2 linked regions of the Homo sapiens genome follow. The protein of the gene in region 2 purifies or fractionates together with the protein of the main gene of each other region. This does not show direct contact. Each region holds a gene or a part of one and is shown on either strand. Other genes may lie near its edges.

Region 1 (7,027 bases), on a different chromosome or scaffold from region 2:
TTAAAATTTCATGGAAGGGGGCAGAGATTAAGAAAAATGTGAAAAGGCTCCTTTTAAAAATAAATTTTAAAAAATACTGAGAAGCACTGCCTTAGGTAATCCCTAAAACCTATGAGGCCGTAAATATTATTAGCAGATTTTTCTACCTGAGAGAGAAATAATACATAAGGGAAATCATACCGTATTGAAGTTTAAACAATTCTAACCTGTGTGGTATGGCCACAGGTGAATAACTCTTGAGTCAGTGTCTCCCATCCTCCCCACCCTGTCTTCCTCATAGAGCTGTGAAGATTAAATGGCATAGGCATATGATGGGCCCAACATCTAGGTGGTGATCAACAATGTAACTCACCATTCAGAAGAAGAATTGGGCATTCTTAAAGATAGATGACAGACTGTCCTTGCTAAACACTGACAACCTGAAACATGCAACAGTACTAAAATATGTGCCAATATATGAAGGGCATTCCACATGCTGGGAGAGCAACAGTAACAACAAATGGTGTATTTTAGTAACTCAAGAGCTAGACACTCTCCTGAGCACTTATCTTGAATAATCTTACTTTATCCTCCTAACACCCTTGTGTGGGAGGTTTTATCGTCTCCATTTTACAGACCAGAACCAAGATAGTCAGTTCATGTTTAATAACCAGCACTCCACTAGTTACTAAATAACCTTTTTTCAATGCTCTGGTGCTGTATTTCTGTTACATCCTTTATCTTACTCCAAAGTCATCTATATATCAGCCTTCCTCCTAATCATCTCTAGGTGAGAGCAAGGATTCTGTTTTAGACATTTTTGAAGGCCCTACATAACCCACTACATAGTAAGCTCCCAAATCAATATTGCTAAATCAGATGGACTATACGCTAAATTAAAAAAAGATAATCAAATCAGAAGATGCATACATATATATATAAAATTTGATAATACATAAAACAAATATCAATAAATATGGGGCAATAAAAGATGAAAAGATGCAGGATAAATCCTGATTAGAGTCAGTGTGGTCAATTAAGATCAATTTCAGAATGGGATTTGATGGTGGAGAGGAACTGATCAAAGACAAGGAAACCAGACGCATTTAAGAGATGCTGAACTTATTTTATCCTGAAGCAAAAGAAGGGCCTTGAAGTCTATAACAGATAAAAAATACACTCATTTTGGAAATGAACCATCAGAAAAATGGATCACCAATTATACAGCAGTAAAGAAACCTGTGAGGCAGGACTAGCCAAGAGAAGTCAAGCATTCTTACCGACACAGTAGTGTCGGCCCCCTCTGGCTGGAAGCTCCAGGAGACTGAGGTCAACCCGCCAGTCGTACTAGTAGACTTGAACTTGCAGGTCAGCTTCCCTTGTGTACCATTTGCCACGAAGATTTCTTTTGGCGTATATACTTCCAAGGCTGATACTCCAGCTGTCACTGAAGAGAAAGGAATAAGGGTAGTTGAAAGTAGGACTTAACATGAATACCACTGTGCATTTTTGCCAGACAAGAAAAGATACAGCAAAGTTACTAGATATATACAGTAATTCACTGCCATTACATATTTCTGGCAGAATATTCTACAGCTAAGTTCAATCAGAATAGCACTATAAACAGAATAATTGCTGACAGTTTAGGTTTGTATTGCTTTTTAGTTAAGATATTTTTATTAGTCTGGTTATATTGAATTTTTTTTTTAAACTAATAGACTTTTTAAAGAGCAGTTTCAGGTTTACAGAAACATTGAATAGAAGGTAGAATTCTCATATTCCCTCACTCTCCCATGGCCAACCTGTTTCTCCTATTATTAACATCTGGCATTAGTGTTATACGTTTGTTTTAATTGATGAGCCAATATGGTTACATCATTGTTAACCACAGTCCATAGTTTACATTAGGATTTGTGTTAGTGTTGTAGATCTTATGGATTTTGACAAAGGTGAATAGTGACGTCTCCACCATTACAGTATCATACAGAATAGTTTCACTCCCTAAGCATCCCCTGTGCTACACCAATTTATTCCTGCCGTCCTTCCCCCCACACCCCTGGCAAACACTGACCTTATACTGTCTCTATAGGTTTGCCTTTTCTAGAATGTTATCTAGTTAAAATTATACAGCATGTAGCCTTTTAAGGTTGCCTTCTTTCACTTAGTAATATGCACTTAACTTTCTTCCGTGTCTTTTTGTGGCATAATATCTCATTTCTTTTTATTGCTGAATAATATACAAATTGTATGGATGTACCACAGTTTATTCATTCACCTACTGAAGGACTTCTTGGTGGCTTCCCTGATGGTCTATTTTTAATGAGGTGATGGGCATATTTTTATTTCTTTAAGTAGTTCTCATGCTTATCTGTTACGCAATTGTTATCACACTGAACTTTTCTCATCATCCATATGTAATGCAATTAAAACTATCCTAAGATATAACTTCATTTTAAAGCCACATTTATTATTTAACTGATCCTTTTCTTATAAAGAACTTAAGGAAGAAAAATGCATGTTTTGGTTTTGTTAGTGCAATCATACCTACCATAAGATTTCACTGTGCTAGGTAAGTAAACAGCTGATTACACCGTATATCACATTTTCATTTCACCCATCAAGTTTTGTCAGTTAGCCTAAGCCCAGGAAATAGTAATTGAAATGTGTCTACCACTTAGAATATAAAAATGGCTCTTTTTTCAAGATCTGCAATAGTAGGCAACTGCAGGAATTGTTAAGGATTGCTGTTAAAAGTATTTGCCAAATTCTTAAAGATTGCTAATTTGAACATACTGCTATAAAAGAAATGCTTTCACAGACAAAATGAAAGTCAGAAAAAAAAAACTTATTTGGCCCAAAATTGGTAACTTAAAAATACCCATCTTCCATATTTTTTAAAGAAATCGTTTGGAATAAATATCTGCAGTGTTGCAATAATTCTTAGAATGTAACAGACGGGCAGAATAAGGAAGAGTATTGTCAGCCAGGACTGATGGTCATTTTCAGAATTTTTTCTCCTTGAAGACTTAACTGACTCTCAGCCAAGGAGAACAAGAGTACTCCCCCATTCCTCCCAACCATCTTGCAAATGTTTATTCTCAGGACATAATGGGCACTTTTGGCTATTCTTTTAAATAAACTGATAGCCATACTGCATCAAGCAGATTTTTTTTTCTGCGAAAGAGGGTGGATTATTATTACAGGGAACAATAGATTATTATTTGCGGTCCAAACCTCAAAACAAGCATTTCTTTCAGAGGAGATGCAAACAAAAGAGTTCCTTGCTATTGTGGGTACGCAGAAAAGCAGCCCCAGGGCACTTGAGTTCAAAATGAAGGACAAAGCACAAGACTAGACTAGTGGACCAGCTTATTCCAGGAAGCAGCACTGGCTTGCAACCCTTATTCACTCTGTGTGATTTTGACTAGTTTTCTCCATGGTGATGAGTACTGGAAAGCCACAGTCTCTAAAAGTCTATAAATAAAGTTTCTCAAGGATTTTCTTTTCTTTCTTTCTTTTTTTTTTTTTTGAGACCGAGTCTCAATCTTGTCACTCAGGCTGGAGTGCAGTGTTGCAACCTCCGCCTCCTGGGTTCAAGCAATTCTCCTGCCTCAGCCTCCCGAGTAGCTGGGATTACAGACACCCACCACGACGCCCAGCTAATTTTTGTATTTTTAGTAGAGACGGGGTTTCACCATGTTGCCCAGGCTGGTCTCGAACTCCTGACCTCAGGTGATTCACCAGCCCCGGCCCCCCCAAAGTGCTGGGATTACAGGCGTGAGCCACCGCACCCAGCCTTCTTCAAGGATTTTCTTAAACCAGATCCCTTCCTCGAGGCCTAGCTGCAAGACTTGTCATCCCGAGACATTATTTAAAGATGGAATTAGACCAAGTGTCCAAGTTTACAGTCACAGAATTTTGAGCAAAAAGACTAACCAAATTCCCAAATGGCTTTTAGGCATCTATTTAAGACACAGATTTCATTATACCAAAGTTAGGTAATAAACAGGTGGCTTTTTAAAAAACACACAACACTCTTTGGCTAATCTGAACGTGTAGCTCTTAGCCAGGATTATGAAATCCAAAGCTAGCCCATCAGCTAGCTCAAGAAAAAGAAAATGATGCCACACACTGAGAAATTAACTTCCTCCCATCCCTGGCTATCTACACTTTTCTCTAATACTACTCTTGTCATCATTTTTGGAGATTTCATCAGTTGTAAGATAAACCTTCTAAAACCCTAGTCTGTTTATCTTCTCCAATAATCTGGGTAAGATCAGGCCTACCCCAGCCACTCATTTCTATGGTCATACCTGTTCAATCAAGTTTAGCCTAAAGCTGCCTCCTTACATATTTTAAGTTCAGCCTAAGGGTTTTTCTGTACACTGTGAACTATAACAAGTGTAGGTGTAAACAGGCCGTAGCCAATCACCTTGGGCCAAGCACCGAGTTTTGGCCAATCAAATGTAGCCAACTGTTCAAATTGTGTTCAAGTAAGGCAAATGCTGAGCTATAATCAATGCAGCTGTTTCTGTACCTCACTCCCGTTTTCTGTACATCACTTTCCTTTTTCTGTCCATAAATCTTCTTCCGCCACGTGGCTGCGCTGGCGTCTCTGAGCCTACCTTGGCTCAGAAGGCTGCCCAATTCGCAGTTCATTCTTTGTTCAGTTAAACTCCTTTAAATTTAATTCAGCTGAAGTTTTTCTTTTATACCCTAAACCAGGGCTTCTCAACCTCAGCACTACTGACAACTGCCACAGACAATCCTTTGTTGTGGGAAACTGTGCTATACCTTGTAGGATGTTGAGCAGCACCCCTGGCCTCTACTAGATGACAGCAGTATCTCCTCTGCCTCCAGTTGTGACAACCAAAAATGTCTCCAGACATTGCAAATGCCTCCTCAGAGGTGAAATCCCCCCAGTTGAGAATCACTAGCTCTAGACCCAATCATCAGTACCTGCACCCACTCCAGAATCGTAGTTTCAGGCTTCTCTACTCCCTAATTGACCACCTCTTAGCTTTCCAATATCCTCCAAAACCCTGAGTTCACTGATCCCTAAGCTGCATCAGAAACTAAAATCCCAGCATGTCTTCATTTGCCTTACTCAGACTAAACCCCATAGGCCACCATTATACTCACCCCCTTGCATACACAATCAGCTCTCTTGCCTCTCCCTTCAGGGCCTTCACCTGGAACCTCTATCCTGGTTAAATTCAATTCTCTATCCACTATGCATCTCCACCAGGGTGGCTGACCACAGCTGGACAAAAGCACACAATCCCACTGACTATTTTCGCCTTAAATGTATGGTCACTAACCTTAAAGGGACTCTTAATGCTGTCTAGCAATCCACCCACATTGCCCTAATCCATCTGCTTTCCATTTCCCTAGAGGACTAGTTTAAACCTTCCTCTCTAACCTCAAATTTCCACTTCCTCTGGTTTCTCACTCCCAGCTAATGACTGAGCTGCTTATTTCACCGAGAAAACAGAAGCAATGAGAAGAGAACCTCCCTATGTCCAGACACCATAGCTACCCACCTCCCTGCATCTGTGCCCATTCTGCTTTCCCTGCACTCCTATGTAGAAAGTGTCTGTCTGCATCCCTCTCCAGGATGAACCTCTCCACTGCACATTGCATCTCATCTCTTGCCTACCTAAGGACATTTATTGATCCAGCAATTCTCCCTCTTCTGAATTTTTCACTCACTACTGAATTACCACCAGCAGCAATATAAACATACATATTTATATTTATATCCCAGGTTTAGAGAAAAAAAACCTTGACCCTGCATCTCCCTGCAGCTCTGGCCCCTTTGTCCTCCTTTATTTTATCAATCTTGAAAGAACTGTCTGTACACACTGTGTCCAATTTCTCTCCTCTTCTGTTCTCTTGGATAAATCCAATTTAGGCTTTCATCTCCGTTACTCCATAGAAACTGTTTTTGTTAAGGAATGCAATGACCTCCATGGTTAATTCTCAAATCTTGTCTTATTGCCCTATCTAAAACCTTTGAAAGTTACTCCCTGCTAAAACCTTTTTTTTTGTTTTTTAACAGTTTGGCTTTTGGAATGCCTCTCCCTCTTGATTCTCTTATCTCATTGACTGCTCCTTCCCTGGTTCTCCTGACCTCTATATGATTAAGAGCCCAGATCATTTCTCTGACTGCGTATCTATTTAACATTCCTTCTCTTGGTGACCTCACTCAGTTTCAAATGCTGATGACACCTGTACACACACACACACACACACACACACACACACACACACACACACACAGCCTATTCAACTTTGCTTGGATGTAATTGGCATCATCTCAAATTTAATATGTCCAAATTAAACTCCTGATTCCCACCCCCCAAACTTCCTTTCCATGGTCTTCTCCAAATCAGTAAATGGTAACACCAGTTTTCTAGTGGCTGAGACCAAAACCCTGGACTGTTTTGTGACTCCTCTCTTTTGCACAACTTTCCTCCAAGCTGTCAGCTACACATGTCATCTCTACTTAGAAACCTATCTAGAGGGGCCGGGTGCGGTGGCTCACGTTTGTAATCCCAGCACTTTGGGAGGCCAAAGTGGGCGGAACACCGAGGTCAGGAGATCAAGACCATCCTGGCTAACATGGTGAAACCCCGTCTCTACTAAAAATACAAAAGAATTAGCTGGTGTGGTGGCGGGCGCCTGTAGTACCAGCTAATCGGAAGGCTGAGGCAGGAGAATGGCGTGAACCCGGGAGGCGGAGCTTGCAGTGAGCTGAGATCACACCACTACACTCTGGGCGGGGTGACAGAGCGAGACTCTGTCTCAAAAAACAAAACAAAACAAAACAAAAGAAACCTATCTAGAAATTGATCTCTCTCTGCCTCATTTGGTGTCACCATCTTGGTCCAAGCCACTGTCATCTTTCACCTGGATTAAGTATTGATAGCTTCCTAATTGGTGTCTGCCTCCTTCAGCCTTCCCCACTTCACAGCAACTAGTCCACAGAGAGGCCAAAGAGATCTCATTAAAATTCAGGTTGGATCATATCACTCTTCTACTCAAA
Region 2 (7,027 bases):
AAGTAGACGGCAGACTACGGAAGCAGAAAGATGGAAGTTCCAGGAACCAAAAATAAATACTACTCATTAAAAACACTGTGACAGATATGAAGAATATCTTTGAGGCCCCTATTAGTAGACTGTTCATGGCCGAGGAAATAATCTCTGAATCTGAGGATATCTCAACAGAAACCTCCAAAACTGAAAAGCAAAGAAAACAAAGACGAAAAATACAGAACAAAATATCCAAGGACTGTGGGACAACTACAAAAGATGTAACATGCGCATAATGAGACTAGAAGGAGGAGAGAAAGGACACAAGAAATATTTGAAACAATAATGACTGAGAATTTCCCCCAAATTAATGTCAGACACCAAACCACAGATCTAGGAAGCTCAAGAAGACACCAAGCAGGATAAATAACAAAAACACACAAGAAACTATACCTAAACATATCATTTTGAGACTACAGAAAAACAAAAAATCTTGAGATAAGCCAGAGGGAAAAAAAACACCATACCCATAGAAAAACAAAGATAAGAAAGCTGATTTTTAGGATCATGCAAGCAAGGAGAGAGTGCAGTGAAATATTTAAAGTGCAGGAAGAAAAAAAATCACTAACCTAGAACTCTGTGCAAAGTTATCCTTCTAAAGTGAAGGAGAAATAAAGACTTTACCAAACAAAAATTGAGGGAATTTGTTGCCAGTAGACCTGTCTTGCAAGAAATGTTCAAAGAAGTTCCTTAGGAGGAAAATGATATAGGTCAGAAACACGGATCTACATAAAGAAAAGAAGAGCACTGAAGAAGGAACAAGTGAAGATAACTTTAGTTTTTCTTACTCCTAACTGATCTAACAGATAACACTGTAAACCAGAAAGTATCTGAGACAAGCATCAGTCAATTTAGAAAGTTTATTTTGCCGAGGTTGTGGCTATGTGCCCGTGACACAGCCTCAGGAGGTTCTGATGACATGTGCCCAAGGTAGTCGGGGCACAGCATGGTTTTATACATTTTAGGAATACAGGAGACATCAATCACTATATGTAAGATGTACATTGGTTTGGTCTGGAAAGGTGGGACAACTTCAAGTGGGGCGGGGGTTTCCAGGTCATAGGTAGATAAGAGACAAACGGTTTTATTCTTCTGAGTTTTTGATGAGCCTTTCACTGAATACACAATTTACAGGAATAGTCTCTTATGACTTAGAATGGCTTAGTGAAGCAATAGGGCAAATGTTTAAATGTATGTTGCAAAGTTGTAGGATACAAGATTAATATGCAAAAGTCAGTGTCTTTTCTATATACCAGCAATGAACAAGTGGAATTTAAAATTAAAAACACATTACCATTTATATTAGAACCCCCAAAATGAAATACTTAGGTATAAATCAAATGAAATATGTGCAAGATCTACATAAGGAAAACTATGAAACTGATGAGAGAAGTCTAAAAACAACAAAATAAATATAGAGATTTCATGTTCATGGAGAAGAAGACTCAATACTATAAAGATGCCAGTTCTTCCCAACTGAACTACACATTCAACGCAATGCCAATCAAAATCCCAGGAAATTATTTTGTGGATATTGAAAAATTGACTCTATAGTTTAAATGGGGCCAGGTGCAGCAGCTCATGCCTGTAATCCCAGCACTTTGGGAGGCCGAGGTGGGTGGATCACGAGGTCAGGAGTTTGAGACCAGCCTGGCCAACATGGTGAAACCCCATCTCTACTAAAATACAAAAATTAGCTGGGCATGGTGGCGGGTGCCTGTAATCCCAGCTACTGGGGAGGCTGAGGCAAGAGAATTGCTTGAACCCAGGAAGCAGAGGTTGCAGTGAGCCAAGATGGCGCCACTGCACTCCAGCATGGGCAACAGAACAAGACTCCACCTCAAAAAAAAAAAGTTTAAATGGAAGAGCAAAAGACTCAGAACAGGCTGGGTGTGACGGCTCATGCCTGTAATTCCAGCACTTTGGGAGGCTGAGGCAGGAGGATCACTTGAGGCCAGGAGCTTGAGACCAGCCTGGGCAACATAGCAAGATCCCATCTCTACAAAAAAATATAAAAAATCAGCTGGGCACAATGGTGTGCACCTGTAGTTCTGTAGTTCTAGCTACTCAGGAAGCTGAAGTGGGAGGATTGCTTGAGCCCAGAAGGTTGAGGATGCAGTGAGCCATGATCGTGCCACTGCACCCCAGCTGGGGCAGCAGAGCAAGACCTTGTCTCAACAACAAACAAGACTCAGAATAGCCAACTCAGTATTGAAATGGAAGAACAAAGTCAGAGGAGTAACACTACCCAACTTCAAGACATCCTTTAAAGCTACAGTAATCATGACAGTGCAGTATTGGTGAAAGACAAATAGAGTGGAATAGAATAGAAAGCCCAGAAATAGACCCGCATAAATATAGTTAACTGCTCTTTGACAAAGGAGCAAAAGCAATATAATGGAGAAAAGACAGTCTCTTCACAAATGGTACTGAAGCACTTGGATATCTACATGCAAAAAAGAAAAAATGAATCTAGACACAAACCTTACACCCTTCACAGAAGTTAAGTCAAAATGTGTCACATGCAGAACTATAAAACTCCTGGAAGATAACATAGGAGAAAATCTAGATGATCTTGGCTTTGGCAGTGACTTTATAGTTGTTAACACCAAAGGCATGATCCATGAAAAAAACAATTGACAAGGTGGACATAATTAAAGAATTTAAATAACTAAAACTAAAAGTCTCTGCTTTGTGAAAGACACTGTCAAGAGAATGAAAACATAAGCCACAGACTAGAGAAAATATTTGCAGAAGACAGATAAAGGACTGTTTTCCAAAACATACAAAGAACTCTTAAAATTCAACAATAGGAGCCGGGCGCCATGGCTCACGCCTGTAATCCCAGCACTTTGGGAGGCCAAGGTGAGCGGATCACCTGAGGTCGGGAGTTCAAGACCAGCCTGACTAACATGGAGAAACCTCATCTCTATTAAAAATATATAAATACAAAAATTAGCCAGGCATGGTGGTGCATGCCTGTAATCCCAGCTACTCGGGGGGCTGAGGCAGGAGAATCACTTGAACCCGGGAGGCAGAGGTTGCGGTGAGCCGAGATCGTGCCATTGCACTCTAGCCTGGGCAACAAGAGCAAACCTCCGTCTCAAAAAAATTCAACAATAGGAACACAAACCAATTTAAAAATGGGCCAGAGACCTTAACAGACACTTCACCAAAGACAATATACAAATGGTCAATAAGCATATGAAAAGATGCTACACATCAGGCCAGGCATGGTGGTTCATGCCTGTAATCCCAGTATTTTGGGAGGCCAAGGTGGGCATCACCTGAGGTCAGGAGTTTGAGACCAGCCTGCTAACATGGTGAAACCCCATTTCTACTAAAAACACAAAAAATTAGCCGGGTGTGGTGGTGCATGCCTGTAATCCCAGCTACTTGGGAGGCTGAGGCAGGAGAATCGCTTGAACCCAGGAGGCAGAGATCGCAGTGAGCCGAGATCACACCATTGCACTCCAGCTTGGGCAACAGAAGTGAAACTCCGTCTCAGAAAAAAAAAAGAATACAAGGAAAATTTGACAGGAAAACTATATAGTTTACAACATTAATTAAATATTACAATCTTAAAGGAGAGGAGAAACAAAAATCTCATTAAATGCTTAAAAGGGAAACTGATAAAATTTGAAATAGATTTTCTTAAAACTTGAGAAGAATAAAATTGGGATGAGTAAATTAGGGTTGACAAACTACTAGAAGGAAACCTTTTGTTTTTATTATGGAAATTTTAAAACAAAATAGAATGAAACATAGAATAGTATTAAGTAAAAAAGAATATAACAAAAAATAGTATAACGAAACTCCATATGCCTATCACTCAGATTTAACAATTATCAATTTATAGCTAATCTTTTCTCATACAAAACCCCACCCCTACTCCTTTACCCCCATCTATTGGATTATTTTGAAGGCAATCCCAGACACTATATTGCTTGATAGACTTATCACTAAAAATACAAAAATTAGCCAGGCGTGGTGGTGTGTGCCTGTAGTCCCAGCTACTCGGGAGGCTGAGGTGGGAAGATCACGTGAGCCCAGGAGGTGGAGGTTGCAGTGAGCCAACATTACACACCACTGCATTCCAGCCTGGGCAGCAGAGTAAGACCCTCTATCAAAAAAATAAAAATAAAAACAAAAAAGTTAATGGAAATAACAGGCCCACCAAGTGCTCAACATTTAATTAAAATAGACCTACATCATGGCACATCATAAAATTTCAAGATACTGAGGTCAAAAGATCTCATAAGCTTCCAGAAAGGAAAGAAACAGGTTTCAGACAAAGGATTAAGAATTAGAATGGCACTGTAACTCTCAGTAGCAACTCTAGAAGCTGAAAGACAATGAAGCAATGCCTCAAAATTCTCCCATCCAAGTACTAACCAGGCCCGACCCTGCTTAGCTTCTGAGATCAGATGATATCAGGCACGTTCAGGGTGGTATGGCTGTAGATGCAATCCCTCAAAATTTTAAGGGAAAATTATTTCCAACCTGCAATTCTATACCTGGCTATGTTCTCAATAAAATAGAACGCTAGAATAAAAACATCTCAAAGAGTCTCTGAAAATTATTTCAATGCACCCTTTCTCAGGAAGGTACTACAGGACATGTTCCCCCCAAATTAAGAAGTAATTCATGAGAGAGAAACAAGAGATGTTTCCATGACAGGAAACAAGAGATCCAATACAACAGAAAAGTGAGGGGAATCCCTGGGATAATGAAGAAGAAAAATCTCCAAACCAAACGTGAATCACAGGCATAGAGAATAAACTGTCCATTGATGATTGATTGGAATACGAAAGATGAGGAAGAAGAATCTAGGATTACATCTAGGGTTCTGACTTGAACAACTTGGTGAAGCAGCATATAATTAGGTAAGAAACATCAGAAGAGCAGGTTTAAGAGCAGGTATGTTTTTGGACATGGTGAGTTTGAGTGGAGATGGTGAATACACAGTTACCTAGGCACAGCATTGACATTTAGGCTAGAGATACAGAGTTATATGCTGTCAGTGAAAAGATGGGAACCTAAGTCCCCAAAGTGGAAAAGATCACCGGGAACAAAGTATAGAATGAAAAGAAGTATAGCATGAAAAGAAAAGGGCCTAGGATAGAGCCCTGAAAACACCCAGATTTAAGGGTGAGGCAGAGGAGAAGCTAGCCAAGGAGGGGCCGGGGAGTCAGGAAGAAAATGAGGAGAACGGGAGGGATCATGACAGCCTAGAGAAGAGACTGCTTCAAGAAGGATGGCATGTTCAATAATTAAGGAAGAAAAAGAGTTTAAAGCATCCAGTGGATCTAGTGACATGGAAGTCACTAGTAATAAGAGCAATAATCTTTGCATATTAGATTATCAAAGATCAAAAATATTTATTTGATAGTTATCAGATATTAAAGAAGTGGCACCCTCATATGCTGTTGGTAGAAATGTAAACAAGTACCACATTTTTTATAAGCAATTTGGGAACACCTATCAAATATAAAATATGCATAAACTTTGACCCAGAGCTTCTTTCACATATGCCACCGAAATACTGGTACAAGTGCACAAAGTACAAGAATGTTCAAAGCAGGCCAGGCGCACTGGCTCACACCTGTAATCCCAGCACTTTGGTAGGCCAAGGCGGGCGGATCACTTGAGGTCAAGAGTTGGAGACCAGCCTGGCCAACATGGCGAAACCCTGTATCTACTAAAAATACAAAAATTAGCCAGGCATGGTGGCACATGCCTGTAATCCCAGCTACTCGGGAGGCTGAGGCACTTGAATCACTTAAAGCCGGGAGGCAGAGGTTGCAGTGAGCCGAGATCGTGCCACTGCACTCCAGCCTGGGTGACAGAGCAAGACTGTCTCACAAAATAAAATAAAATAAAATAAAGAATGTCAAAGCAGCCCGTAATGCAAAATTGGGGATGAGAGGAGGAACTACATCTCTATCAAGTGGAAAAGGAGTGAATAAATTTAATGGAATAAATGTGTCCGGTGGACACCTAGGTAGCTGCTCATAAATGAAGTAGCTATGATTGTACTAACATAGAATGGTAGCTGTGATACAGTAAGTAAAAAAGCAGAATATATAGTTCCCATGTGTCTAACACTGTATATATAGGAATAGATATGCATATACATTATAACAATATAAATGTTTGTAAATGCATAGATAAAAATATAAAAACTGTTAGAGGTGAAATCTATGAAATGGGATTTGGAAGGCAAAGGATGGCATTTACTTTTCCACTAGTTGAAATTCTTTACAAAAAGGTATAATTTTTATCAATGTTTAAAGAGAACATGAAAGGATAAAAGAAAAAAAGCATTAACTAAGAGAAGAGTCTGGGAGAAATGAGAATGGCCAGCTGTCCAATGCCCTTACCTTTCCTGAGACAAATTCTTGCCATAGGCTTTGCTGACAAAATCTGTTAATTGCAACTTTGGGCAAGATGCTGTGTCTTTCCCACAGTCTTCAAAGTGCACGGAGAGAAAGAGTTCACTCAGAAGCTGCAGCACTTGGGAGTGGGCCATGTTTCTTGCTGTGCATATGTTTAGGGCCGCATAGAACACTCCCTCCAACCACTTGATATTGAGGATTATTCCCCCTACACATCAATGAGAAGGTAAATACCAGTTAGCACCACCAAAAATGAGTTGCAGAAAACCTAGAATAAACCCCTGACAGTGAATAGCCGCCTTTTTTCCAAGACAGATTGGTAATATGAACCACAAGATAAGCAAACATTCCTTCCTGAGCCACAAGTGCTACTTGTGCCCTTTATAACACATCATGTGTTGACCATCCCAAAAGTGGACAGATACAACTAATGTAGACATTGCTAATGGCAAAAAGTGTCTCTGGAATAGTCGTTGCTAATATGGAGAAGGAACTGGGGAAAACTACAAGATTAGAACAGGGAAAAGCCATTTTAGTCCAACATTACATCCTCCTATTGAAATAAGCTATCTCCTCTTTTGGTTTTAATTTGTCCT

The links.
Region 1: the proteins of NOXRED1 (region 2) and MPZL1 purify together in Homo sapiens (affinity purification with mass spectrometry; 3 studies listed by BioGRID and IntAct, with this or other methods). This does not show direct contact.

What each region holds. Positions count from the first base shown.
Region 1 is NC_000001.11:167,759,982-167,767,008, reverse strand, and holds part of MPZL1 (myelin protein zero-like protein 1 isoform a precursor), read right to left. Parts: intron 1,427-7,027; coding exon 1,260-1,426; intron 1-1,259. UniProt on the Homo sapiens protein: Cell surface receptor, which is involved in signal transduction processes. Recruits PTPN11/SHP-2 to the cell membrane and is a putative substrate of PTPN11/SHP-2.
Region 2 is NC_000014.9:77,399,497-77,406,523, forward strand, and holds part of NOXRED1 (NADP-dependent oxidoreductase domain-containing protein 1), read right to left. Parts: intron 6,640-7,027; coding exon 6,417-6,639; intron 1-6,416.